4 linked regions of the Homo sapiens genome follow. The protein of the gene in region 4 interacts with the protein of the main gene of each other region in a biochemical or structural test. Each region holds a gene or a part of one and is shown on either strand. Other genes may lie near its edges. The genes, in order: USP4, PAN2, WDHD1 and RBBP8.

The links.
Region 1: the proteins of RBBP8 (region 4) and USP4 form a complex in vitro, tested with the Homo sapiens proteins (one study listed by BioGRID).
Region 2: of the proteins of RBBP8 (region 4) and PAN2, one has a biochemical effect on the other in vitro, tested with the Homo sapiens proteins (one study listed by BioGRID).
Region 3: the proteins of RBBP8 (region 4) and WDHD1 form a complex in vitro, tested with the Homo sapiens proteins (one study listed by BioGRID).

The regions. Positions count from the first base shown.
Region 1 is NC_000003.12:49,323,033-49,330,059, forward strand, and holds part of USP4 (ubiquitin carboxyl-terminal hydrolase 4), read right to left. Parts: intron 4,785-7,027; coding exon 4,654-4,784; intron 2,814-4,653; coding exon 2,687-2,813; intron 2,008-2,686; coding exon 1,862-2,007; intron 1,732-1,861; coding exon 1,670-1,731; intron 1-1,669.
Region 2 is NC_000012.12:56,330,996-56,337,872, forward strand, and holds the start of PAN2 (PAN2-PAN3 deadenylation complex catalytic subunit PAN2), read right to left. Parts: upstream 3,006-6,877; 5' UTR 2,867-3,005; intron 2,724-2,866; exon of another isoform or gene 2,492-2,723; intron 2,214-2,491; 5' UTR 2,100-2,213; coding exon 1,818-2,099; intron 1-1,817. UniProt on the Homo sapiens protein: Catalytic subunit of the poly(A)-nuclease (PAN) deadenylation complex, one of two cytoplasmic mRNA deadenylases involved in general and miRNA-mediated mRNA turnover.
Region 3 is NC_000014.9:54,961,092-54,968,118, forward strand, and holds part of WDHD1 (WD repeat and HMG-box DNA-binding protein 1), read right to left. Parts: intron 6,304-7,027; coding exon 6,189-6,303; intron 5,516-6,188; coding exon 5,384-5,515; intron 2,082-5,383; coding exon 1,861-2,081; intron 1,763-1,860; coding exon 1,647-1,762; intron 1,461-1,646; coding exon 1,407-1,460; intron 1-1,406. UniProt on the Homo sapiens protein: Core replisome component that acts as a replication initiation factor. Binds directly to the CMG complex and functions as a hub to recruit additional proteins to the replication fork.
Region 4 is NC_000018.10:22,936,325-22,943,351, reverse strand, and holds part of RBBP8 (DNA endonuclease RBBP8), read right to left. Parts: intron 6,599-7,027; 5' UTR 6,501-6,598; coding exon 6,392-6,500; intron 1-6,391. UniProt on the Homo sapiens protein: Endonuclease that cooperates with the MRE11-RAD50-NBN (MRN) complex in DNA-end resection, the first step of double-strand break (DSB) repair through the homologous recombination (HR) pathway.

The sequences.
Region 1 (7,027 bases), on a different chromosome or scaffold from region 4:
TCTCAGTTCCCTGCAACCTCCGCCTCCCGGGTTCAAGCGATTCTCCTGCCTCAGCCTCCCAAGTAGCTGAAATTACAGATATGCACCACCACGCCTGGCTAATTTTGCATTTTTAGTAGAGACAGGGTTTCTCCATGTTGGTCAGGCTGGTCTCAAACTCTCAACCTCAGGTGAGCCGCCCACCTCGGCCTCCCAAAGTGCTGGGATTACAGGCATGAGCCACTGCTCCTGGCCTTTTTAAAAAAAAAAAAAAAAAAAAAAAAAAAGAGATGGGGTCTTGCTGTCGCCCAGGCTGGAGGGCAATGGCAGAATCATAGCTCACTGCAGCCTCAAACTCCTGGACTCAAGCAATGCTCCCACCTCAGCCTGTCAGGTAGCTGGGACTACAGGCACTCACCATTGTGCTTAATCCCATCTGCAAAGTCCCTTTTGCCATGTCACCTGACATAATGACAGATTCTGAAACAGATTCTGGGAATTAGGATATGGATATCTCAGGGTGAAGATGAGCACAGCTATGCCTACCACAGCTATTTTATTTATCTTGTCAACAACTGGCAACCGGGGTTTCTTAAACTGGAGTCCATGACTGGACTTCAGGGGTTCTAACAGTTCTTCTCTTAAGAACTCATAGTTTTCATGGTTCTCAAATGACCTAGGAGCCCACTACTATGTAATGGTCACAGTCCAAGGCCTGACAGAGGGAAAAGGACAGAGCGCAACATTATTCCCATAACTACTGGAACACAGATATAATTTCCAAAACTTATACCATAACGAAAATTAATCACTTCTTTATCTCCCTAAGAACATGCACAGTTCCACATACCACATGAACATCTCTTGAAACAGATGTGTCCTTAGTCCAAGTTTTGTAGCTGAACAATTCACCCAGCAAGCTCCCAGGGCAACAATGAGTAACAGGCCACTGGGCAGAAACAGGTAGAATCAAGCTATCACTTTTTTTTTGTTTTTGTTTTTTTTGGGTCAGAGTCTTGCACTGTCACCTAGGCTGGAGTATAATGGTGCGATCTCAGCTCACTGCAGCCTTCACCTCCTGGATTCAAGCGACTCTTGAGCCTCAGCCTCCCGAGTAGCTGAGATTACAGGTACCTGCCACCATGCCTAGCTAATTTTTGTATTTTTAGTAGAGACAGGGTTTTACCATGTTGACCAGGCTGGGCTCGAACTCCTGGCCTCAGGTGAGCCACCTCCCACGGCCTCTCAAAGTGCTGAGCTTACAGGCATGAGCCACCATGCTCAGGCCTCAACTATCACTTTTAAGTCATATAAAACCCCATGCCTTAGCCTTCCTCTTATCCATCAAGGCCTCTAACTACATGTGGAGAAAATAAAAGCGTGACAAAAACAAAGCAACCTCCTGGTAGAGCAGCAACCTTAGACTTGATCCCTCATATCCCTTCCTCCTTTTCTCATTCTCCACGAGCAGAGGCTCGCCACCTTGCTGAGATATCCTGACAGGCTTCCCTTAGATGCTGCCCTGCTACCAAAAGCCACGGTCTTCATCCAGAAGCATGAACTCTGGATATACAAAATAGGCATTGTTCATCTGAATCAGAACAATTTTTCTTAGTACAAGTACTGCCTTAGGAAAGACTGTCTCTTTTGCACATGTGAGCCTACAACAAGGGAGAAAAAATTCACTTACTTTGACTGCAAGGTCTGCCTGGGCCATGTGCCATCTTCATTTTGAGGCTCAATTACTAGCACCTGAGTGAAAGGGGAAACCAAATGAGGAGAGTTCAAACCACCGCACTTCCAACATGCTTAGAAGCAAAAAGTATCTGGCCACACACCCTGGGCAGAGCTACCTGCTGGGGAATGGCCAGGGCCCTCCTACCTGACCCTGGTATAGCCCAGCATCCTGGACAGTGTTGTCTAGCTTGCTCAACTGCTCGTAGGTGTTGCTCATGTATTTGTTCCAGAGCCGTGTTTCACGCTCCGCAGGGATGTTGAATAGCTTCCGCATCTCTTTCTCGATGGTTGCTAGGAACAGGCAGAAATATCACTTGGGGCTTTGTCCACATGCAAGGCTAAAGACAGCCATGGCAAACTAATGCTCATCCTCTTTCTTGTCAGATGCTCACAGGTGCTCTGGATCAACCCCCTGATACCTCTTAAAATCAATCATCTCCCATGGGTGGCCTCTTGCACTCATATGCCTGGAAAGTATCCCTATGCTTCTTTGCTAACGTGTGTCTCTCATTTATGGCGCAAAAGCAACATAGAAAGCGAGAAAGCTTATCTTTGGAGTTAACTCAGATATGGCTTCAAAAGCTAGCTCCACCATTTTCTGGCTGCGATTTGTTTTTTTTTTTAAGAGACAGGATCTTGCTCTGATGCCCAGGCTGCAGTGCAGTGGTGGGATCGTAGCTCACTGTAAACCTTGCTGAGATTTTTAAATAAGTTATTTTTAAACTTCTTTGGATCTACATTTCCTTATCTTCATTATCATAGACAAATGGGCAAGGAGCAGGCCCAGTGTTCTCTCCATAAGAATTCCTGGAGGAATAGGCCCCCAGGTCAGGACTGGCAACTACAGCTCGAGATGATTTGGGTAACAAATCTAAAGAGGGCATATAAAATAATGCCCTCTTCCCTCCCATCAGCCACAATGTCCTACACTCTCTCACCACATACCAGGGACCCCAGCCCAGCCTCTCACCAATGGTGTCTGCCTTGCTGAAATGGCAACTCAGCACATTGGTGGGGTCACTGTTCTCACAGAGCTTCAGTTCCAGCAAATACACCTCGACTTTGCAGTGCTTGACAAACAGGCCATGCTCCACAACCTATGAACAAGAGGCAGGGGTGAGGGCATAGCGGTTTTGCAGCTGGGCAGTCTTGGATGTAGCATATCTTATCAGAAGCAAAAAGCAGAAAACTCATGATAATCCATTTCCTTTACTGATCAAGGGATCAAAAGAACAGATTTTTAAAGCTACCAGTACCTGGACAAAGAGTTTAAAAATATTTTTTCTGGCCGCGTGTGGTGGCTCACGCTTGTAATCTCAACACTCTGGGAGGCCGAGGTGGGTGGATCACTTGAGGTCAGGAATTTGAGACCAGCCTGACCAACATGGTGAAACCCCATTTCTATGAAAAATACAAAAATTAGCCGGGCATGGTGGCATGTGCCTGTAATCCCAACTACTCAGGAGGCTGAGACAGGGGAATCGCTTGAACCCAGGAGGTGGAGGCTGCAGTGAGCCAAGATCGCTCCACTGCACTCCAGCCTGGGCGACAGAGCGAGACTCTGTACCCCGCAAAAAAATATATATATATTTTTTTTCTACCCACTAAGACCAAGAGCATCTTGATGATATTAGAGAGAAGCCTATTCTTCACTGTTTTTTGTTTTTGAGATGGAGTCTTCCTCCGTCAGCAGCCTGGAGTGCAGTGGTGCGATCTCAGCTCATTACAACCTGCACCTCCTGGGTTCAAGAGATTCTCCTGCCTCAGCCTCCCGAGTAGCTGGGACTACAGGGGCCCACCATCATGCCCAGCTAATTTTTGTATTTTTAGTAGAGACAGGATTTCACCATGTTGGCCAGGATGGTCTCGATCTCTTAACCTCGTGATCCGCCTGCCTCAGCCTCCCAAAGTGCTGGGATTACAGGCGTGAGCCACCATGCACGGCCTGATCAAAGACTCTTTTTTTTTTTTTGCAACCGAGTCTCACTCTGTTGCCAGGCTGCAGTACAGTGGGGTGATCTCGGCTTACTGCAACCTCCGTCTCCTGGGTTCAAGCAATTCTCCTGCCTCAGCCTCCCGAGTAGCTGGGACTACAGGTATGTGCCACCACACCCAGTTAATTTTTGGATTTTTAGCAGAGACGAGGTTTCACCATGTTGGCCAGGGTGGTCTTGATCTCCTGACCTCGTGATCCACCCGCCTCAACCTCCCAAAGTGCTGGGATTACAGATGTGAGCCACTGCGCCTAGCTCAAAGACTCTTAAGCATAGAGGGAAAAGCAGTATCATAAAGGTTTTTTAAGATAAACAAGATGCAGGACATTAGCTATATGTCCATATGCCCCCAGTGAACTTTCTCTCATAGAATTTTCCAGAAAGTTCTCTCACAGCGCTGCTGGGCACATTCCAAGCCACTGGGCAGCTCTGATGTTTAGAGGCCACTCATGATAATATTCTGGGTGAGCAACTTCACTCACAACCACAATTTCCTAAAGAGAACCAGAAACAGGCTGGGCGTAGTGGCTCACGCCTGTAATCCCACCACTTTGGGGGGCCGAGTCGGGCGGATCACAAGGTCAAGAGTTTGAGACCAGACTGGCCAACATGGCGAAACCCCGTCTCTACTAAAAATACAAAAATTGGCCAGGCGTAGTGAAAGGCGCCTGTAATCCCAGCTACTCAGGAGGCTGAGGCACGAGAATCACTTGAACCTGGGAGCCAGAGGCTGCAGTGAGCCGAGATCGTGCCGTTGCACTCCAGCCTGGGCGACAAGTGCACAAGACTCCATCTCAAAAAAAAAAGAGATCCAGAAACAAGGCCTCAAGCACCACTATTCAACCACTGAGGTATGTTCATTTTCCTAGCAAACACTAGTCAGTGTCCAACAGAAAGCACCTGCAGACAGTGACCAGCAGGTGGGACAATTCACATAACTCACTTTTCTGACGATGGGTTGCTGGCCTTCTACACAGCCGTACCAGTTTAGTAGTTTATTCCACGCCTCGGTAGGGACCAATACATAGTCCAATTCATCAATTAAGTGTTCTTTCAAGGTCTGACTCTCAGGATCTAAAAAAGGAAAAGAGCACATAAGTCACTGCTCTTTACCCCAGAAATGATGGTTTTACATGATTTCCATGTACTTTTCAGAAATAAGAAAATTATTTACAGAAAGAAACAGGAATGAAATTCCAAAATTCTGTCACTGGTCATTATACAGAGCAGACTTTTGTCTTTATCCATGTTTTCTCTTTATCCATGAAGATTTTATGAGGAATTTGTATTTCTTCTATAATTGGAGGGAGAGAAGAGGATAAAAAAGAAAAACTCCAGGCTGGGTGTGGTGGCTCACACCTGTAATCAGCACTTTCGGAGGCTGAGGCGGTTGGATCATGAGGTCAGGAGTTTGAGAGCAGCCTGGCCAACATGGTGAAACCCCGTCTCTACTAAAAATATAAAAATTAGCCGGGTGTGGTAGCGGGCACCTGTAGTCCCAGCTACTCGGGAGGCTGAGGCAGGAGAATTGCTTGAACCCGGGAGGCAGAGGTTGCAGTAAGCCAAGATCACGCCACTGCACTCCAGCCTGGTGAAAGAGCAAGACTCCATCTCAAAAATAAATAAATCATACATGAGGTGGTTATGGTTTCCCACCATCCCTCCGACTAGTTTACACACCTTTTTCAGGGCAGGGTTCCTTTGTTGTCATTTCAACAATGCTCATAACATCTTCACCAGACATAGATTCCATCTCAAGAAACCATTTTCTTTGCTCACCCATAAGAAGCAACTCCTCAGCCATTCAAGTTTTATCATAAGATTAAAGCAATTCAGGCCGGGCATGTTGGCTCATGCCTGTAATTCCAGCACTTTGGGAGGCTGAGGCAGGCAGATCACTTGAGGTCAGGAATTCAAGATCAGCCTGGCCAACATGGTGAAACCCCATTTCTAGTAAAAATACAAAAATTAGCTGGGCATGGTGATGCATGCCTGTAGTCCCAGCTACTCGGGAGGCTGAGGCATAAGAATTGCTTGAACCCAGGAGGTGGAGACTGCAGTGAGCCGAGATACCCCACTGTACTCCAGCCTGGGTGACAGAGCAAGACTCTGTCTCAAAAGAAATAAAAATAAATAAAAATTAAAATTAAAAATAGGCCAGGCGCAGTGGCTCACACCTGTAATCCCAGCACTTTCGGAGGCCGAGGTGGGCAGATCATGAGGTCAGGAGTTCAAGACCAGCCTGGCCAGGGTAGTGAAACCCCGTCTCTACTACAAACACAAAAATTAGCTGGGCATGGTGGTGCACACCTGTAGCCCAGCTACTTGGGAGGCTGAGGCAGGAGAATTGTTTGAACCCAGGAGGCGGAGGTTGCAGTGAGCCAAGATTGCGCCACTGCACTCCAGCCTGGGTGACACAGCGAAACTCCATCTCAAAAAAAATAAAAATAAAAGTAAAAATAAAAAATAAAGCAATTCAGTCACATCTTCAGGCTTCACTTCTAATTCTAGTTCTCTTGCTATTTCCACTTTTGCTGTTACTTCTCCCACTGATGTCTTGAGCCCGTTGAAGTCATCCGTAAGTGTTGGAATGAACTTCTTCCAGACTCCTATTAATGTTGATTTTGACCTCCCATGAATCATGAATATTTTTGTGTGTGTGTGTGGGCAGGTGGGAGTGGCAGGCCTTACTCTATCACCCAGGCTGAAGTGCAGTGGCATGATTACAGCTCACTGCAGCTTCGACCTCCCAGACTCAAGCAATCCTCCTGCCTTAGTCTCCCAAGTAGCTAGAACTACAGGTGCATGCCACCAGGCCTAGCTAATTTTCGTATTTTTTATAGGGATGGGGTTTTGCCAAGTTGCCCACCCTAGTCTCCAATTCCTGGGTTCAAAGGATCCACCTACTTCAGCCTGCCAAAGTCCTGGGATTATAGGTATAAGCCACTGCACCAGGTGGAATCATGAATATTCTTAATGGCATCTAGAATGGTAAATCCTTTCCAAAAGGTTTTCAATTTAATTTGCCCAGATCCTTCAGGAGAATCACTATCTATGGCAGATAAAGTCTTATAAAATGTATTTCTTAAATAATAAGACTTGAAAGTTGAAATCAAATCAGGCACGCTGGCTCAGGCCTGTAATCCCAGCACTTCGGCAGGCTGAGGCGGGAGGATCACTTGAGGTCAGAAGTTTGAGACCAGCCTGGCCAACATGGTGAAACCTGGTCTCTACTAAAAATACAAAAATTAGCCAGGTGGAGGGACGGGCACCTGTATCCCAGCTACTCAGGAGGCTGAGGCAGGAGAATTACTTGA
Region 2 (6,877 bases), on a different chromosome or scaffold from region 4:
CACCATGTTGGCCAGGTTGGTCTTGAATTCCTGACCTCAGGTGATCCGCCTGCTTCGGCCTCCCAAAGTGCTGGGATTACAGGTGTGAGTCACCATGCCCAGCCAGCATTTTTCTTAACAGTACTAATCAACACCTGATGTATTGTAATGTTTTTCTGTTTACTGCTTATTCCAAACCTAGACCTTAGGGCAAGGTCTGACACCTAGCATGTGGCTCAAAAAAACACTGGTTGAATGAATAAATGTCTACCTCTTCCAGTCCGGTAAATCCTAATTGCTTGTAGTTCCTGAATTTTGTACTCAGCAAGCTTTGTAGTATCTTGGGAATCTTTGTTTATCCTATGCTAAGACGCCTTTTCCCATCTTTCTCACCTGATTTCTACTCATGTTGCAAGACTCAGTTCAAGGGTTACTTCCTCCTCGATGCCCTTTCTGACTATTCTCCATCCTGTCCAGCATCCAGTACAGATTTTCACACTGGCGCTTAGTACCATGAAATTATCTGGTTTTGTATATGTTTTTTACCTCACTGTCCTGTAAACTCCTTGAGGGCAAGGATTATGTTTTATTTAGCTTTATTCACAGTGCCTAGCATAGCAGTAGACACTGCCTATTAAACTGAATGAATCACACACAAAAATTCATCCCTTCTAATGGAAAAACAATTCATGACCAAAGAAGTCAATCAGTAAATGAAGGACAGCGTTTTTTTTTTTTTTGTTTTTTGTTTTTTTTTGAGACGGAGTCTCGCTCTGTCACCCAGGCTGGAGTGCAGTGGCGTGATCTCGGCTCACTGCAACCTCTGCCTCCCAGGTTCAAGCGATTCTCCTGCCTCAGCCTTCCGAGTAGCTGGGACTACAGGCGCCTGCCACCATGCCCAGCTAATTTTTTGCATTTTTAGTAGAGACAGGGTTTCACCATGTTAGCCAGGATGGTCTCGATCTCCTGACCTCGTGATCCGCCTGCCTCAGCCTCCCAAAGTGCTGGGATTACAGGAGTGAGCCACCGGTCCCGGCCGGACAGCACAGTATTTCTTACAAAGTCTTTGGGCACCATAGCATATTGGCAATACGGGTACAGATTTTAAAAAATTAAGATTGATAACTGCTCTGAGAGATATTAAAATCAGCCAGAGAAGACAAAATGATTCAATGGAAGATATGCAGAATCATTCATTAAATATTCTATAATAATAAAAATAGAAAACACAGGTGGGGCAACAGCAATTGAGATTAGATTTGGATGGCTACAGACTAAGTGATGGGTACAACTATCAAGATAAATCAAAACACTGGATGGGCAATTGTGACAAAAGTGGGATGCTGGCCAGGTGCCGTGGCTCACACCTGTAACCCCAGCACTTTGGCAGCTCTATGCAGGAGGACCATTTGAGCTCAGGAGTTTGAGACAAGCCTGGGCAACATAGTAAGACTAAAAAATTTTTTAAAAATTAGCTGGTCTTGGTTGCGCATGCCTGTAGTCCCAGCTACTTGAGATGCTAAAGTGGGAGGATTGTGTGAGCCCAGGAGATTGAGGCTGCAGTGAGCCATGATCACATTACGCCATTGCACTCTGGCCTAGGCGACAGAGCAAGACCCTGTCTCGAAAAAAAAAAAAAAAAAAAGGGATGCCTCCTGAGAAAGAATATGTCATTTACTCCTAGATCCTAGATTCTCCCTTTATCCCTCCAACCAGACCCAGCTGTCTCATCACTACAACTCCTCGGTACTGGCTATCTGCAAAGCAGCTTCCTTGGGTTAAGACCAGATAAAGACCTTCAACATCTTTCAACCCTCACAAAGGGGTACAGTTCTTACCCCGTGGCTCCCCACCCACAGCATCTCCTCGTGCAAGTCAAAGTGGGAGACGGAAACAGGTACACCCACTTCAGCCACCACGCTGTGCAATTCAGAGTAGACACCTTCCATTATGTGCACTGATTCCTGGACGGGAAGAGCCTCCAAGGCCACTCCCTCTGGGTCCAGCTCCACATTCTGTAGCAGACTTGGGTTCAGGTGGGCATCCAAGACAGGGTCCAGGGCAGAATGCATGGCTGGGGCATATTCTGCCAGTCCAGGGTCCAGACCCTCAAAGTTCATGATGACGATGGCAGCTTACACCTGTGTCACACCCTCCCTTACCACAGTCCCTTTAGATGCCTGACCCAACCTTCAGCAAGACAGCACCGATGGGCCTAGAATGGACATCCTGGCCTGTAAGGGGAAAGAGGTAGCTGAGTCAAGGGTAGGCCCAGGTACTGGTACTTAGGGTCTTCTAGGTTATGGGGGCAGGAGGGAGATGAGGCAGGCATGAGGGATGAGACTGCCAGCCAAAGGATGAAGCAGGCGGGGGAGGGATGGGCAGTGGGGGTGGAGGTGGTAGAACTGTTGTCCCTATCCCTCCTCCGCTAGGCCCTCTGTACTCTCCACCACCCCATTATCTAACCTAATCCTTGACTTCCCTTTCTTCTCACTTCGGACTGCTCACTTGCCTTGTTCAGCCCTGAATCATCAGGTGAAGGGAGCGAGAATTGCGGGGGTTGGAGTTAGGTAGAGGGATTTAAGGTGCTTTCTCCCAGAATTGGGGGTGAAAACGGGTGGATTGGACGGTGGGGAGAACGAGAAGTCAGTTTCCTAGAATCCTCTCCAATAGCTACCCAGGATTCTCTAGAGGAAAACAATAATGGCCAGTTACCCACAATTGGGGCGGGGGCAGGGGAAGGTGACGGAAACGGCTAGTTACCCAGAATTCTCTGGGGGAACCAGAAAAATCGGTTATCTAGAATTCTCCCACGGCAGCGGTGAGGAGGGGGATAGGGCAAGGGTCAGATGTGTTCCTGGGATGCTTACGGGGAATGGGTCATTACCAAGATTTCTCCATGGCGGATATTTTGGAGCGCGTGGAATTAGAACGAGTAGGGGGAGCGCAAGCGCTGTCAGCTCCGCGGGAAATTCCAGTTTCCCCAGTTCTCCCCCACGCCTAGGGCTCAACCTAACCACTACGGCGCCAAGGACCGGGGTCCGAGGCGCTTCTTCCAATCAAGAAGGGCTCGGGGCATATTTTAGCCAATCAGAAGGGCTCCGGGCGCATCTAAGCCAATCAGAAGGAGCCAGGTACGGCGACCCCAGGAGAGAGCGTGTGACGCACGCGCCGGAAAAAGAGGTTACGGGGCGCCGGTGGGACAAACGCAGCCAGACGCCGGACTTGTTGGGTGGCGTTAGAAAGTAACTCTGTTTTTAGTCTTCTTGAACAAAATTACGTCTAGGTTTGAAAACCAAACTTTTATGCTTTCTATAACTTTAGGAACTCTAAAATAAGGGACACACAAGGCAAAGCACTAGGAGTCGCTGTTGGGTATTCCCAGCGGGGCTTAGTCTACCTCCTCTTCCTGCGGTGCCCTAGTGAGCCACTCCGCCACCTCTGACCCTGTTGCCCCCAAAACTCGCTGGCATTTCCTATTATTTCCAGATATGGGAGAGAAAAAAAAGGAAGCGGGAGCCGGACTCCTGACACAGTCCAAGTGGCTGCATCTTCTACAGGCATCCATCTGAAACTCCCATCCGTGATTGTTCCCTCCCCAGAGACCCCGGTAACATTCCCGGGTAACAAGATGCCCCTGGTTATCAAATTCCCCTAGCTCTTGAGGCTGGCTGGACGTTATCCCTCAGAGGGGGATGAGCATGGCAAATTGGGACTTGTTATTCTGAAGGATTCGTGGGTCCTGTGAACTCTAATTACTTTGAAATGGGTCTAGGTTGTGAGATGTCTCAGAGCACTTTAGCTCAGCTGTTATTACTGTTTCTAAAGGCCACATAAAGGGACTCTGATGGGAGACATTCCTCATGGAGGATTCAATTCTATAACATTTCTCTCAATAAAGGCTGGTAAATAGACCTTCATTAAAGGAACCAAGAATTTAAATTTCTAGGACTCAGAGGGGTGGGGTCCTATACCCAGTCAGAGATCCTACCTAGAGCCTAGACCAAGAGAAAAACACAGATGGTCTCTCAAACTGATTTGATCTGACTTCGCAGGTCATTAGATATAGAATCTCCGAAAAAGGTGGATGCTGAGAGACATAGACAGTTCCTACACTTTAAGAAATCTCCATCTTGAGGTCTCAAATTGAGAAAGACTTAACAGACCCATGAGAGTTACAGATCCCTAATAACCTGGGCTAAATAATCCATGTCTGCCGGGCGCAGTGGCTCACGCCTGTAATCCCAGCACTTTGGGAGGCCGAGGTGGGCGGATCACCTGAGGTCGGGAGTTCGAGACCAACCTGACCAATATGGAGAAACCCCGTCTCCACTAAAAATACAAAATTAGCCGGGCCTGGTGACGGGAGCCTGTAATCCCAGCTACTTGGGAGGCTGAGGCAGGAGAATCATTTGAACCTGGGAGGCGGAGGTTGCAGTGAGCCGAGATGGCACCATTGCACTCCAGCCTGGTCAGTAAGAGCGAAACTCCGTCTCAAAAAAAAGAAAAAAAAAAAGAAAAGAAAAAAGGATACTGTGAGGAGACACAAGAGCATCCATGACATAGATTATTTAGCTCAGCTGTAATTACTGTTTCTAATACAGTAATATTAGATGGTGATCTGCCTGCCTCGGCCTCCCAAAGTTCTGGGATTACAGGTGTGAGCCACCGCGCCCAGCCTTTTTTTTTTTTTTTTTTTGAGACAGGATCTCACTCTGTTGCCCATGCTTAAGCGCATTGGCCCTCTCACTCACTGTAGCCTCAACCTCCTGGGCTCAAGCGATCCTCCCACTTCAGCCTCCCAACTAGCTGTAACTACAGGCACTGGCCACCAAACCCAGATAATTTTTTTTTTCCTGTAGAGGTGGGGTTTTGCCACGTTACCCAGGCTGGTCTTGAACTCTTAAGCTCAAGCGATCCTCCTGCCTCGGCCCCCCAAAGTTCTGGGATTACAGGCATGAGCCACCATACCTGGCGTACAGTATCCAGTGTAATGCAGTGATTAAAAATTCAGGATCCAGACCGGGATGGTGGCTTGTGCCTGTAGTCCCAGGGGTGGAGGTTGCAGTGAACGGAAATGGTGCCACTGCATTCCAGCCTGGGTGACAGAGTGAGACCCTGTCTCAACAAAACCCCCCAAAAACCAAGAACAAAAAAGAATGCAGGATCTGATGCTAGATTGTCTGCATTAGAACTCTAGCCACTTAAGCTGGGTGTGGTGGCTCATGCCTGTAATCCCAGCACTTTTGGAGGCCGCAGGCGGGTGGATCACCTGAGATTGGGAGTTCAAGACCAGCCTGACCAACATGGAGAAACCCTGTTTCTACTAAAAATACAAAATTAGCCACCGGGCATGGTGGTGCATGCCTGTAATCCCAGCTACTTGGGAGGCTGAGGCAGGAGAATCACTTGAACCCGGGAGGCAGAGGTTACGGTGAGATGAGATGGCACCATTGCACTCCAGCCTGGGCAACAAGAGCGAAACTCCATCTCAAAAAAAAAAAAAAAAAAAAAGGAATTCTAGCCACTTAGAAGCTCTGTGATCTTGGGCAAATTGCTTATCTTTGCACCTCAGCCTCCTCCTCTGTAATATAGGGTAATAGTATCTACCTTAAAGGGTTGTTGTGAAAATTAAATAGTTTAGTACATGTAAAGTGCTTAGACAAAGTATTTGGCATTAAGCGAGAGTTGGATATATTAGCCATCATTATTAACCACCTGGGGGAACTTCAACTGATTTGGAGTCTAGGCATACAACTGGAAAGACCTGCCTAGGAGTGTCTTGTGAATGCGATTTGCATAACGGTTTAGGCCCAGCTGACGTCAAGGGCTCCTTATAGCTCCAGGTCAGTTGTAGCCCTGGATGTAGTTCCTGCCACGCAACAGTCCCACAATCTCCCCACCAACCCTTCTTCCTACCCAACTCCTGCAGCACCAGGAAGTGAAACAAAGAGGCAGAGCCCTGTGCCTCCAACTCACCCTTGTCCCTCTCATCCCATCCCCCAGGCTCTACTTCCTCCTCCTTTTCATCTTTCTTTCATCTCTTATCTTTTAGGGCTCCCAGAATGGGGACCAGAGATGGGAAGAACATAGGAGACGTTGTACACAAGTAAGGTGAACTCCCTATCCTGCCCCCTCCCCTTTCCTTATTCCATTGGTGTCCACCTTATTAGGGAGAGAGGCAAAACAGTTCTCACCCAAACTCAGATAATTCTCTGATGCTGGAAATGTTTAATCTAAAGGGTAGATTTCCATTTTTTTTTTTTTTTTTTTGAGACAGAGTCTTGCTCTGTCACCCAGGCTGGAGTGCAGTGGCGCCATCTCGGCTCACTGCAACCTCTGCCTCCTGGCTTCAAGCGATTCTCTTGCCTCAGCCTCCCGAGTAGCTGGGACTATAGGCGCCCACCACCGTGCTGGCTCATTTTTGTATTTTTAGTAGAGACAGGATTTCACCATGATGGCCAGGCTGGTCTCGAACTCCTGACCTCATGATCCGCCTGCCTCGGCCTCCCAAAGTACTGGGATTACAGGCGTGAGCCACTGTACCCGGCCCTTGGTAGATTTAACTTAGAATCGTAATATTTTTTTTTCTTCTCTTAGCTCATACCTACAGAATCATAATATTTGAACCAGAAGTGTCATTGGGCAGTTTTGAATAGCTCTAAGGGAAGGGAGACCTCCATTCAGGACAAGTTTCTCAGAAGAAAAGGGTCAACCTCTTGGGGGAGGCTTTGGGAGCCAGCTGTGTGGTCACCGATGGCCTCATTCTGACGTCTTCGAAATTGTTCTGGGACCCTCCACTGGGGTCGGGGCAGTCCCGGCTTTGGACCACCTTCCACTCCCACGCCCAACCTCACACTCTTAGCTGTTTCACTCGATGTTGCATCATGGAGGGTGA
Region 3 (7,027 bases), on a different chromosome or scaffold from region 4:
ATCACACCTGGCCAGTAGTCTATTATCTGTTCTTCTTCAGCACAGTGTGCCATGCTATACCTCTGCTTAAAACCTACAACAGTCTCTCAGTGACCTTAGAATAAAGAGCAAAATCCTGACCGGGTGTGGTGGCTCACACCTGCAGGTCCAACAACTTTGGGATGTGGAGGTGAGGAAATTGCTTGAGTTTGAGACCAGCCTGGACAACAGAGTGACACCCCATCTCTATTAAAAAAAATAAAATAAAATAAAAAAAAGACCAAAATCCTTAATATGGCCTACACAGATCTGCATGACTTGGCTCCTGCCCATCACTCCGAAACCCTTCAGCACCACTTTCTCTTTGCTCTCTGAGCTTTTCACACCACCCTTTTGCAGCCTTCAGTTCACACATACTGTTCCTTAAGCCCAAATGCTTCTCTTCTGCTCCTGTTCCCATGCACCTTTGCCTTGCTGACTGTTATTCATCCTTCAGGTCTCTGCTGTAAACACTCCATGAGGCCTGCCTTGAAGTCCCTACCCATCCTCCACCACTGGCTAGATGACAGCTATGTGTCATACGCTCTTTTCATATTCTACATGTTTTTTAAGTTAATTTTTTTAAATCAAAGTAACATATGTCCACAGTTTAAAAAGTCAAATGGTACTATAAGGTTTATGCTCCCCACCAAAAAAGGGCCAGCAGTGCCTTACTTCAACCTTCTCTTATCCCCCAGGCCCACTCCCTGTACGCAACCATTTTCAACTCCTTTTTTTTTTTTTTGAGATGGAGTCTCACTCCATTGCCCAGGCTGGAGTGCAATGGCACGATCTCGGCTCACTGCTACCTCCACCTCCTGAGTTCAAGTGATTCTCCTGCTTCAGCCTCCCGAGTAGCTGGGATTACAGGCACATACCACCACCCTCAGCTAATTTTTGTATTTTTAGTAGAGATGGGGTTTCACCGTGTTGGCCAGGCTAGTCTAGAACTCCTGACCTCGTTATCCGCCCACTCCGGCCTCCCAAAGTGCTGGGATTACAGGCGTGAGCCACTGCGCCCAGCCTTCAATTCCTTTTAACTGTTTCTCCAGTATCCTGCATGCTTCCTCAGTGATACCCAGATCTGTCTTCAACATCTGTCTTCTCAGCTGGGCTAAAATAGCATTAAAACAGAGATCAACCACACATGTCTGTTTGACTTCTGTATCCACCATTAAGTAAAATGCCTGACACTCAATAGGCATTTTATAAACATCTGTTAAATGACCATAGCTTCACAAACAACATCTGAGATTAAAAAAACAAAAACATAAACACACACACACCAAAAGTGGCCTTAAGAGTTAAGGTGTATTTGCGTAGATGTGTCACTTTGCAGATGACTTGCAAAATTTCCTTGATATTACAAATTTATAAATATTTCTCACCTGACTTAGCTGAAACATCAGAGGAATTTGTACTTTTGGAAAACGAGTTCTGTCCTACAGATTAAAATAAAGCAATATAATGTAAATGGGGAAAATATAGTCATCCTCAATATACAACAACCAGATAGCAAAGAGGTCTGAAAAAAAGTATGAGTATTCAATTTCCCTCAGTTAAGCAAAATGGGAAAAGCCACATCCATGATAGTTCTCATGATTTATGGGCTTGAAAATGTATCTCACCAGGCTTATGTATTTCTGGTTTTTCTTCATCATCAGCTTCTCCACTGTCCTCAGCATCTTCTTCAACTTGATTTCTGAACCTTGGTTGGCTCCACTCTGTAGCAGTATTGCTGTAACTAAGAGAAAATAATATTATTCAATAAAGAGCTATGCAAAGACCAACTTAACATTCAAGACAGTAAAGGAAAATTCAAACAACTAAATTATTTCTTACCCAGCATTCAGCTTTTTTCTGAAATCTTCTTCTTCTTCTTCCTCTTCCACCTGGGTTGCTGTCAATTCGGCTGCCTTCTCTACAGCCAGTTCACTTAGTTTTTGAGCCAGTATTAATTTCCGAGAGCGAGAAGCATATTTAATGGCTAAATTCACAGCATTTTGAGTCATTAGATCAGCAAGTTCCACACAACGGAATTCTCGCTCCAGTTTACAAGAAAGCTAATCCAAAAAGGGGGGGGGGGGGGAGATCAAATAACATCAAGTAAAACTTTTTAAAGATACTGACACTACTAGTAAAACTGAGACAATAGTTTTCTAGCTACTCTATCTCCCTAATTCTAAGATGCACATTTTTACAAGTTTTAACATCTCTGAAATTGGAATTACAATTAATTACAATTAATGGTGGGTCAGTTTGGCAGCATTTTTATGTCTCCATGGCTTAAATGAATAAAGTAATGGTGCACTATGCAATAAACAGTGGCTTAGATTTGATGAAATATTACATACCACTTTAATCTACTAATTGCAAGAAAATTAAGAAATTTGTTTAAAAAATTCAAGGGGGAGGCTGGGCACGGTGGCTCACGCCTGTAATACCAGTGCTTTGGGAGGCCCAGATGGGTGGATCATGAGGTGAGGAGTTCGAGATCAGCCTGGCCAATATGGCAAAACCCCGTCTCTACTAAAAACACAATTAGCCAGGCGTGGTGGCGTGCGCCTGTAATCCCAGCTACTCGGGAAGCTGAGGCAGGAGAATCGCTTGAACCCGGGAGGTGGAGGTTGCAGTGAGCCAAGATTGCACCACTGCACTCCAGCCTGGGCGAGAAAGCGAGACTCTGTCTCAAAAAAAAAAAAAAAAAAAAAAATCAAGGGGGCCAGGTGTGCTGGCTCACACCTGTAATCCTAGCACTTTGGAAGGCCAAGGCAGAGGGACTGCTAGAGGCCAGGAGTTTGAGACTAACCTGGGCAACACAGTGAGACCCTATAACTACAAAAAATAAATTAGCTGGGCGTGGTGGCATGCACCTGCAGTCTTATCTACTCAGGAGCCTGAGACAGGAGGTTCACTAGAGCCCAGGAGGTTGAGGCTGCAGTGAGTTACAATCTTGCCACTGTACTCTAGCCTGGGTAACAGAGTGAGACCCTTTCTCTAAAAAATACAAAAAAGAAAAACAACAAACTGAGAAAAGTTGGTATTTTGAAGATTACTAAGGGTCTCCTAATTCATAGTGTATTAGAACTATTTTCTTACTTAGATATTCCATGTCTGATCCATCAGCACAAAAGCTTTAGATATTCACCTGGATGCCCTTTTCAAGATTTTTAGTATCATTTATCTATAATCAGTACTTCTTAATCGGGATGGTACACTGCCTCAGGGGGCATTTAGAAATAAAAAGGAAGCCGGGCGCAGTGGCTCACACCTGTAATCCTAGCACTTTGGGAGACTGAGACAGGTGGATCACAAGGTCAGGAGATCGAGACCATACTGGCTAACACGGTGAAACACAGTCTCTATTAAAAATACAAAAAATTAGCTGGTGTGGTGGCAGACAACTGTAGTCCCAGCTACTCGGGAGGCTGAGGCAGGAGAATGGCGTGAACCTGGGAGGCGGAGCTTGCAGTGAGCAGAGATCGCGCCACTGCACTCCAGCCTGGGCAACAGAGCGAGACTTCGTTTCAAAAAAAAAAAAAGAAATAAAAAGGAATAGTCTGGTTTCCACAGTGACTATTCTGAACTAAAGGCATTTGCCCGGGGGTCAGGAATGCTAAAGAAGAACTCAACAATCCCCTTGAACTCCTGGGCTCAAGATATCCTCCTGCCCTGGCATCTTTGATATGAGTCCCCTGGTATTTTTGATATGAGAAACACTGCCACAGGGAAAAGCTCCTCTAGGCTAAATAGCAAATACATGAAATATGTTTCCTTATATGTGTTGTACAAATAAAAAGGCTACTAGTTCCTGGACCACAAGTAACACTTTATAAAAGGAATAAAACTTTTTCTACAATAAACTGAGTTTTCTTAATACCAAACTTAAGGCCATGTTGCATAAAGGTGACAGTAGTGAGTACTACCTTTTGGAGACAAGAGTGGCAATTTGCTCTGTGGTCTCATATACCACTTTTCTCTAAGAACCTTTTTTCTCCAATTTTAAAATTAAAAGTCTGGACCATTCACTCTTGTCAACAAATATCGAGGTCTACTATGTGTTAAGCCACCATGTCAGTGCCTGGCATACAGCAGTGAGCAGGTCTCTGCCCTCTGGGGCATAAAGTCTAGTGTAAGACAAATAAAGAAGAAATGATACTATACTCCTCTCCATAAACCAACCTTGAGTGGGGACACAAGCACAGGAACTTTAAGACACCCTGCTCCAAAGATAAATGTACTTAAATATTCTAGACACCAAACCTGGCCACTGGTCACAAATAAATTTTCATCACACACAGCTGCCTAACTCAAAGAGGATGACAAAAGGCAGGCATATCTAACAGCCCGATCAAAGTTCTTAAGATTGCCCAGCCCTGGAGATTAAAAAACAGTATATACTCAAACTTTGTAAAATAATAACAGAAACTAGAGCAGTGGTTCTCAGTTACCTTGAGAGCCCGTTAAAACATAGACTGATGGGCAAAAGCAAAAGGGAAGTAGCCCTAGAGATGTTTATTCCTGCACATGATCTTAGCTACAAGGTACTGTTTTATTTATTTTAGGCTGGGCACGGTGGCTCATGCCTGTGATCCCAGCACTTTCGGAGGCCGAGGCAGGTGAATTACCTGAGGTCAGGAGTTCAAGACCAGCCTGACCAATGTGGTGAAACCCTGTTTCTACTAAAAATACAAAAATTAGCCAGGCATGGTGGCACACGCCTGTAGTCCCAGCTACTCGGAAGGTTGAGGCAGGAGAATCACTTGAACCCGGGAAGTGGAGGTTGCAGTAAGCCAAGACTGCACAACTGCACTTCAGCCTGAGAAACAAGAGCGAAACTCCGCCTAAAAAAAAAAAAAGAAAAAAATTTTAACTGCAAGACCAACTAGAAGATAGAACTTTACAAGGGAAAACACCACCAGATAAAACTTAAGAATGGCTGGGTGTGGTGGCTCACACCTGTAATCCCAGCACTTTGGGAGGCTGAGGCGGGCGGATCACGAGGTCAGGAGTTCGAGACCAGTCGGGCCAACATAGGGAAACCCCATCTCTACTAAAAAAAAAAAAAAAAAAAAAAAATTAGCTAGGCGTGGTGGTGTGTGCCTGTAATCCTAGCTACTCGGGAGGCTGAGGCAGAATTGCGTGAACCCGGGAGGCAGAGGTTGCAGTGAGCCGAGATCGCACCACTGCACTCCAGCCTGGGTGACAGAACGAGACTCCGTCGCACAAAAAACAACAACAACAACAAAAAAAAACTTAAGAATCTTAGGTTGTGGGACTTAGTCCTAATGCACAGACCTTTAAGAAATTCAACCTATAGAAAAGCATTTAACTTTAACGTTTTCAGTATATTTATTTTACTCACCGCAAGCATTTTCATTAAAAGTTCCTGTTGCTCTTTTGTTGCTTGATTTTTAGTGCTCTCTTCATATTCATAACCATTTTTAGCTAAATAATCAAGGTGGTTGTGAAATATAACTGAACGCCAAAATTGCTCCTATAAAAGCAAATAAAATTGCTTAAGGCCAACTATCACCTTAATATGAGGCAAGCGTTAAATATTTATCTTAAGATACCAGTTTTTGAATAAAATATGTTCTGAACTCTTCCTTTCTATAAGTTTATTTTACAATTTAAATTCTAGTGTGATACTACAGCTTAACTTTTTCCCCTATCCTTAAAAAAGGCAGCTGGGGAGGAATACAGCATTTAAAACAGTTTCCTAGCTATCATAATTAATGCTCAGAGAATTTGGTAAACAAGATTTTTAAAAGCTAACTTGTTTCTTATTTAGAATAACTAACTGCAAGATTTCAAATGACTTTTGATGACACAAGGCTAGGACTAGGGTCAGGCAAGCCAGGTGTTATGGCACAAAATGTATGGAGGCACTTCTTCTCAGGGACATGCCCCATCCTGAGAGTAAGTCTTTCCCCAGTGGGTCTCTGACAGTCACACCCATTTACTTTGTAGACAAAGTCCCTGGAAGCAGTGATGGCAATCAGGTGGCCTGGTGATCCCAAGCAGTCCTCTTCCCTCCCTGCTACCCCTATTTATGTAATTATACAGTAATGAATATTCAATACTGGCCATCAGGATAATTTTAAAGTGTGTGTATCACAGGTGCTGTATTATCAAATTCAAAGTGTCAAGGTAAGACTTCCACATACCTCCATTTGTCCTTTCTCTGTTGCAATCTGACAGTAAGGAAGCTTAAAGGATAATATAGCAACAGCAGGGCGTGGAAGGGTTGGGGGAAACCGAGAACCTTTACAAGGAATGCACCTGTTAGTAAAGAAAAGTTCCATCATAAAAATTTACTAACATGTCATAAAAACTACAAAATTTAAAAAGTTTTCAAAAGTTAGTAACTTAGAATAGTAATATTATAATAGCTGCCTTAATCATATATAACAAATATCTCTTTTTAAAAAAGTGTTTTAGGCTTGACTAGGCATAAAGACTATCCCTACATGCATTTCAAGAATAGAAAAATTCCTTCTCACATCTCACTTGATTTATTTTTTTTGAGACAGGGTCTCACTGTGTTGCCCAGGCTAAAGCACGGTGGTGTGATCACGGCTCACTGAAGCCCCAACCTCCCAAGTTCAAGCAATCCTCCCACCTCAGCCTCCCAAGTAGCTGGGACTACAGATATATGCCACCATGCCTGGCTAACTTTTGTATTTTCAGTAGCGATGGGGTTTTGCCATGTTGCCCAGGCTGGACTCGAACTCCTGGGCTAAAGTGTGCCTCCCACCTTTGCCTCCCAAAGTGTTGGGATTACAGGCGTGAGCTACCCTGCCCAACCTCACATCTCACTTTATTAAATGACAACCACTAAAAGTGAAATCAGCTCTCTTCATATTTTCCTTAGCAAACTACCACTTTTAAAACATAAAAATTGTACCATTAATACCTGTCATGGAATCCATGTTATCACCAAGATAAATGCTGATGAAGCTGCACATGGAACATACTCTAAGGTCAACCACATGCTTGGCCGTAA
Region 4 (7,027 bases):
TCCTCCTGCCTCAACCTCTCAAGTAGCTGGGACCACAGGCACACACCACCATGCCTAGCTAATTAAAAAAATGTTTTTTGTAGAGACAGGGTCTCGCTTTGTTGTCCAGGCTGGTCTCAGACTCCCGGACTCAAGTAATCCTCCTGCCTTGGCCTCCCAAGTGTGTGCCACTGTGCCCAGCCTGACAGCATTCTTAATAATGAGTGGGACAATTCCTTTCACTGTTAATTTGTGCAGTCTTAAGATAATGTTCTCTTTTTAGAATTTTTGATTCTATGTATAGAAAATAAATGGAGCAATTAAAAAATGAATCAAGAAATATTTATCCTGTCCTATTAGAGCCCCCAAACTTTCCCATTTCTTCAAGGTGTTTCAACTTTGCCTCACAAAACCTACCTAGTTTTCTTTGAAACTGATTACCATATTTACTAGACACAGAAAATATATTAGCTAGATGTTAATAGCAGACGCTGGCATAGGCAAAAGATCATTTATTAAAATAGTGGTATTCTGAAAATAAATATTTTAAATTCTATTTTATTATTTGTGCTTTTGATAATAAACTTGATACTGAAAAAGATTTTTAAAGGCAATAAAATTTTGTACCCAAATAAATATGCTTTAAAACTTTTGAAATTTAAAGAATTCTGAAGTTTCCATTAAATTCTGTGAGTTCGGAATTTAAAGCATAAACACTGTATATCATCAGTAACAATCTGTGACACTGATACTAGCAGCATTTGTCACAAAAGGAACATATCATGAAATGATACAATCATGAAAGGATAAAATTATCTTAAAGGATATAAAAACTCGGTCATAAATGTCTCCAGAATTTTTCAACAAAAATGGTCTGGTTTGCATATTGCTAGTCTCCAACAGAAATTAGAGCATTTTGTCTATTCTTGCCTAGTTTTAAAAGACATGGATGCAGTTTATTATATTGTTGTGATCAGTGCACATACTGTCATATTTTGCTATCATTTTATTATGTTTTGGCAAAAGAGGCAAAAATAATTCTAAACACGTGTAGCAGAGCATTCAGATTCAAGCAAGTTCCTATGGGTACATTTCTGTAGCTAAGTAAAAACTATATATCTCAAATATTACCATTCCCAACATTTCTCTTTTATTTTTTACTGACATGAAGCTTTAAAAGTCATGAGTCAATTTTGATTCCTATATATACCTTAAAACCTGCAAAGTCCAGACAAGTCCATGTTTGATGTCTTTCAAACAGCTTCTTACACTGGTTTCTACAAATGGATTCCCCACCTCCTTAAAAAAATTAAGTTCCCTTCAGGCATGTCTTTGATGTTATCATATAGAGACTCTAATTTTATATGGAACTATGTGGAACATATTGACGAAGGCATGGCCCAAACCAAAATGTTTTAAAATGACATATCTACTTAAAAAATAGTACTTATTCATTTAATACCTTTAAGAATCCATAAGTTATTTGAAATTGGGAAAGTGGCATGATCAATATAACGTACCAAAGATTATCTTCTCTTATGAGCTCATATATCCAATACCTAATATTCATAAAACACATGGACCTTATCATATACACCAACAATTACTGTATTCCTCCCTTAAAGTTATTCAGAGTATAGAAACTTTTGTGGGAATGTGATTAGAACATAACCATGAGGAGTACACTTTAAAGGAATTATCTACTACATAATATTTGCAAGCTTTATATATTCTATAATTTGATAAATATGGCATATTGTTCCTATTAAAGAGTATACCATTTGTTTCTTGATGCTTCCTCACTGTAAAATAGGGATTTCATGAAGATCCTGTAACACCAAAGAATAGGAAGAAGAAATCTGTCAAATATTTTATTTCTATTAAATTAATAGCTTATAAATAGCCAGGCACAGTGGCTCCTGCCTGTAATCCTAGCACTTTGGGAGGCCGAGATGGGCGGCTTGCTTGAGGTCAGCAATTCAAGACCAGCCTGGCCAACATGGTGAAACCTCATCTCTACTAAAAATACAAAAATTAGCCAGGAGTGGTGGTGCGTGCCTGTAGTCCCAGCTACTTGCGGGGCTGAGCCAGGAGAACTGCTTCAACCTGGGAGGCAGAGGTTGCAGTGAGCTGCGATCATGCCACTGCACTCCAGCCTGGGTGACAGAGTGAGACTCTGTTTCAAAACATAAAAAACAAAAATAGAAATCAAGAGTTTCAAGAAAGTTGCAGAATATAAAATCAACTCACTAAAACCAGTTGTATTTCTATACACTAACAATGAACAATCTGAAAAGCAAATTAAAAAAACAATTCTATTTACAGTAGCATCAAAAGAATAAAATACTTAAGAATACATTTCACCAAGGAGACAAAAAACTTGTACAATGACAATCAGAAAATGTTGCTGAAAGAAATTATAGAATGACCAGGTGTGGTGGCTCACACCTGTAATCCTAGCACTTTTGGAGGCCAATGAGGTCAGAGGACTGCTTGAGCCCAGGAGTTGAGACTAGCCTGGGCAACAAAATGAGATCCCTGTCTCTATAAAAAAATAAATTAGCCAGGTTCGGTGGTGCATGCCTGTAGTCCTAGCTACTCTGAAGGTGGAAGCGGAAGGATTGCCTGCACCCTGGAATTTGAGGCTACGGCGAACCATGATTGTGCCACTGCACTCAAGCCTGGGCAATGAGGCAAGACCTCATCTCTAAAAATTAGTAATTAAAAATTAAAAAATCTTAAAAAGAAATATAGACCGGGCGCAGTGGCTCACGCCTGTAATCCCAGCACTTTGGGAGGCTGAGGCGGGCGGATCACGAGGTCGGGAGATCGACACCATCCTGGCTAACACAGTGAAACCCCGTCTCTACTAAAAATACAAAAAATTAGCCGGGCGTGGTGGCGGGTGCTTGTAGTCCCAGCTAGTCAGGAGGCTGAGGCAGGAGAATGGCATGAATCCAGGAGGTGGAGCTTGCAGTGAGCCGAGATCGCGCCACTGCACTCCAGCCTGGGCTACAGAGCAAGACTCTGTCTCAAAAAAAAAAAAAAAAAAGAAATATAGAAGACACTAATAGAAAGGTATCCCGTGTTCATGGACTACAAAACAATATTGTTAAGATGTCAATACTATATAAAGCAATCTACAGATTCAATGCATTACCTATCAAAATCCCAAATCCCAAAATCCCAACATTTTTTGCAGAAATAGAGAAATCTGTCCTAAAGTCAAGGCAAGATGACAATCTCTTCAGCATAGCACATACCATTTTACATAATTTGGATCTATGTACATTTCTAGCATCATATCCTATCCACCTCCCCCAAAACTCCAATCTCCCATTCCATTTCCTCTTAGAACTAAACCTAACTATCCAGAGTTCCTTGAATAAAATCAAGCTCTTATCTGCAAACTTTTGCATGTGCTATTCTCTCTACTCAGAAAATTCCCTCCCCTTCCACCATCTTCCTTGCCTGGCTAATTAGACTTAATTATCAAGCCTGGTCTGACATAAACCATGCACAAACCCACTTCCCCATGCAACCACACACACCCTCAGTTCTTCCTTCATGTTTTCAGATAATAACATAGTATACTGCATTAAAATTCTAGACTAGAAATTCCCTTAAAGCTAGCACTATATAGGATTTATTCTTATTCACAAGGTCTGGCACATAGTAAGTGCCCAAAAAACATTTCTTGAACATTTCTTTGTGTCTCCATGAACACTGGGGCTTGAAAGAATACTTTTGGGGTTGTTCATATTTCAAAACTCATTAATTAATAAGGGTGTCACCAGAAGTTTTGCAAGAAACTAAACTTACCATGGGAAAGTTCTTTTTTTTTTTGAGACGGAGTTTCGCTCTTGTTGCCCAGGGTGGAGTGCAATAGCGTGATCTCAGCTCACTGCAACCTCCGCCTCCTGGGTTCAAACGATTCTCCTGGGTTCAAGCGATTCTCCTGCCTCAGCCTTCCTGAGTAGCGGGGATTACAGGTGCGCACCACCACACCCGGCTAATTTTGTATTTTTAGTAGAGACAGGGTTTCTCTATGTTGGTCAGGCTGGTCTCGAACTCCTGACCTCAGGTGATCCGCCCACCTTGGCCTCCCAAAGCACTGGGATTACAGGCGTGAGCCACCGTGCCCAGCCTACCATAAGAAAGTTCTAATACAGACTCACATACTACACTTTAGATTCAGGTTGATTATGTTTTAATAGTACTCCAGTGTAATGATACAGCTATAAAGCACTGCAATATTAAACTTATAATAGGTAATCAAGAAACAAATGTAATATGAAGCATTTCTCATACATAGGGACATAGGGAAAGTTACAGAATTAAAGTATATTAAAATTTAATATTAAAACCTTGAGCTTAGCTTCATATGGTGTATCTTTTAACACAAATAATATTTACTCATCTCAACCACAATTGCTTAATCCTCTAAAACTCCTTGCACGTCATAAAAACCTTTTAACTGTTATTTCACTGTACTGTAATTATCTGTTTACACGACTCTACTAAGACTGCAGGCTGTCTGAAGGTAAGTGGCCATTCACTTTTGTATTTCAGTGCTACGGGTTTGTCAAATGACTTTATGTAGTATTTTTATGTCTATATCCTGCAAAGAATTTTATAGAAGAAAATTAAATTTAGAGGTTAGGTAATTAGGCTAAGATCACAGAGCAAGTGGGTAAATGAAATCAGAATTCAAATGCAGGTCTTCAGTCAACAAATTGTATACGTTTTCCACTATCTCATACATATTACCACAAGTAAATAACAGCAAGTTGTATACAAACTATGTTCTGTGGTTAAAAAGCACCAATTTGACCATAAAAATGAATCACAAAAACTACAATTGTAAATGTCCTCTAAAAATGAGATCTGGCTGGGCGCAGCTCACGCCTGTAATCCTAGCTGTTTGGGAGGCCAAGGCGGGAGATCACCTGAACTCAGGAGTTTGAGACCAGCCTGGGCAACATAGCGAAACCCTGACTCCACAAAAAATACAAAAACTAGCTAGGTGTTCTAAGGTGAAGGATAAGTTTAAAAAAAACAAAAACAAAAACAAACTAGCTGGGCATGGTGCGTGCGCCTGTAGTCCCAACTACTTGGGAGGATGAGGTGGGACAATCACTTGGGCCCGAGAGTTTGACACTATAGTGAGCCATGTTTGCACCACTGCACTCCAGCATGGGTGACAAAGCAAGACCCTGTCTCAAAAAGAAAAAGAAAAAAAGATCAGCTGGGCACAGCAGCGGACACCTGTAATCCTAGCACTTTGGGAGGCTGAGGCCAGTGGACTGCTTGAGCCCAGAAGTTCAAGACCAGCCTGGGCAAAAAGGCAAAACTCTGTCTCTACAAAAAATACATAAAATTAGCTGGGCGTGGTGGTGCACACCTGTAGTCCCAGGTACCCAGGAGGCTAAGGTGGGAGGAACACCTGAGCCTGGGAGGTTAAAGCTGCAGTGAGCTGTGACCATACCACTGCACTCCAGCCTGGGCAACGGAGTGAGAACCTCTCTGAAAATTAATTAGTAAATAAATAAATACATGAATATATAAATAAATAAATAAATAATGAGATCTTTGGGCCAGGCGCAGTGGCTCACGTCTGTAATCCCACCACTTTGGGAGGCAGAGACAGAAGGATCACTTGAGGCCAGGAGTTCAAGACCAGCCTGGGCAACATAGTGAGACCCTGACTCTACAAAAAATAAAAAATTAGCCAGGCATGGCAGCGTGTGCCTATGGTCCCAACTACAGGAGGGAGGCTCACTTGAGAATGGGAGGTTGAAGCTGCAGTGAGCTGTGATCACACCACTACACCCCAGCCTGGTGACACAGTGAGACCCTGTCTCAAAAAAAATAAAAAAAAAAAAAAGATATCTTTGAATTTAAAGATGGCCATTAAATGTACAAAATTCAACAGTGGACTGAATTAAAAAAAAGTATATATACATCATGGAATACAATGAAGCCATAAAAAAGAACAAAATTATTTTCTTTGCAGCAACATGGATGCAGATGAAGCCATTACCCTGAGCAGACAACAGAAATACTGCATGTTCTCATTTATAAGTGGGAGCTACACATTTAGTACACATGGACACAAAGAGGGGAACAACAGGTACTGGGACCTACATGAGGGTGGAGGGTCAGGGGGGTGGGAAGAGGGTGGGGATTGAAAAACTACCTATGGGGTACCATGCTCACTACCTGGGTGATGAAATCATTTGCACACCAAACCCCAGCAACATGCAATCTATCCATGTACCAAATCTGCACATGTACCCCCGGAACCTAAAAGCTGAAATAGAAATAATAAACAGGACTGTCATACAAAGGTATACAAAGCCACTACAGTCTCAACAAAATACTGCTGTAAGTATTTAAGAAAAGATTTTACCTTGTACTTCTCTATCATGACATTCTTTTAGTTTTGTCCAAAGGTCCTTAAAGTCACTAGATGTATCTGCAGAGTTAGGGCTTCCACAGCTGCTTCCCGAGATGTTCATCTTGCTTAATATGCTCCACACTTCTACTTGCTTAATATTTTCTGACCTTTTCTGTTACATTATAGAGGTATCAAGTCGTCTTTGGACAGGTCAAATACCTGAAATGACAGATTGCAACATAAATGAACTTTGCATTTATCTTTATGTACTTTGAAATCAGGATGAAACACAAGCCCAGATATCCTCATTTACCATTTCCTTATTTACCTATAATCAATCATTTTTAGAATTTGGGAGGGGAAGGAAAGAATAAGGAAAGATGATAATGGTGAGAAAAGTTCTGATTTCAGTTATTTGGCTATATGAGGTAAATTTTCAGGCAAATTTTCTTATTTCTCTTAGAGGAAGAAATTATCTCAATTATATTAAACAGAAAGGATTCAGATATTGAGGGGTTTTTATCATTCATGGTCAGTATTAATTTACCACTATAGACTAATGTATTGTTTTGGCTGGGGGAGATGGCTCTTGCCTGTAATCCTAGCTCTTTGGGAGGCTGAGGTGGGCAGATCACTTGAGGCCAGGAG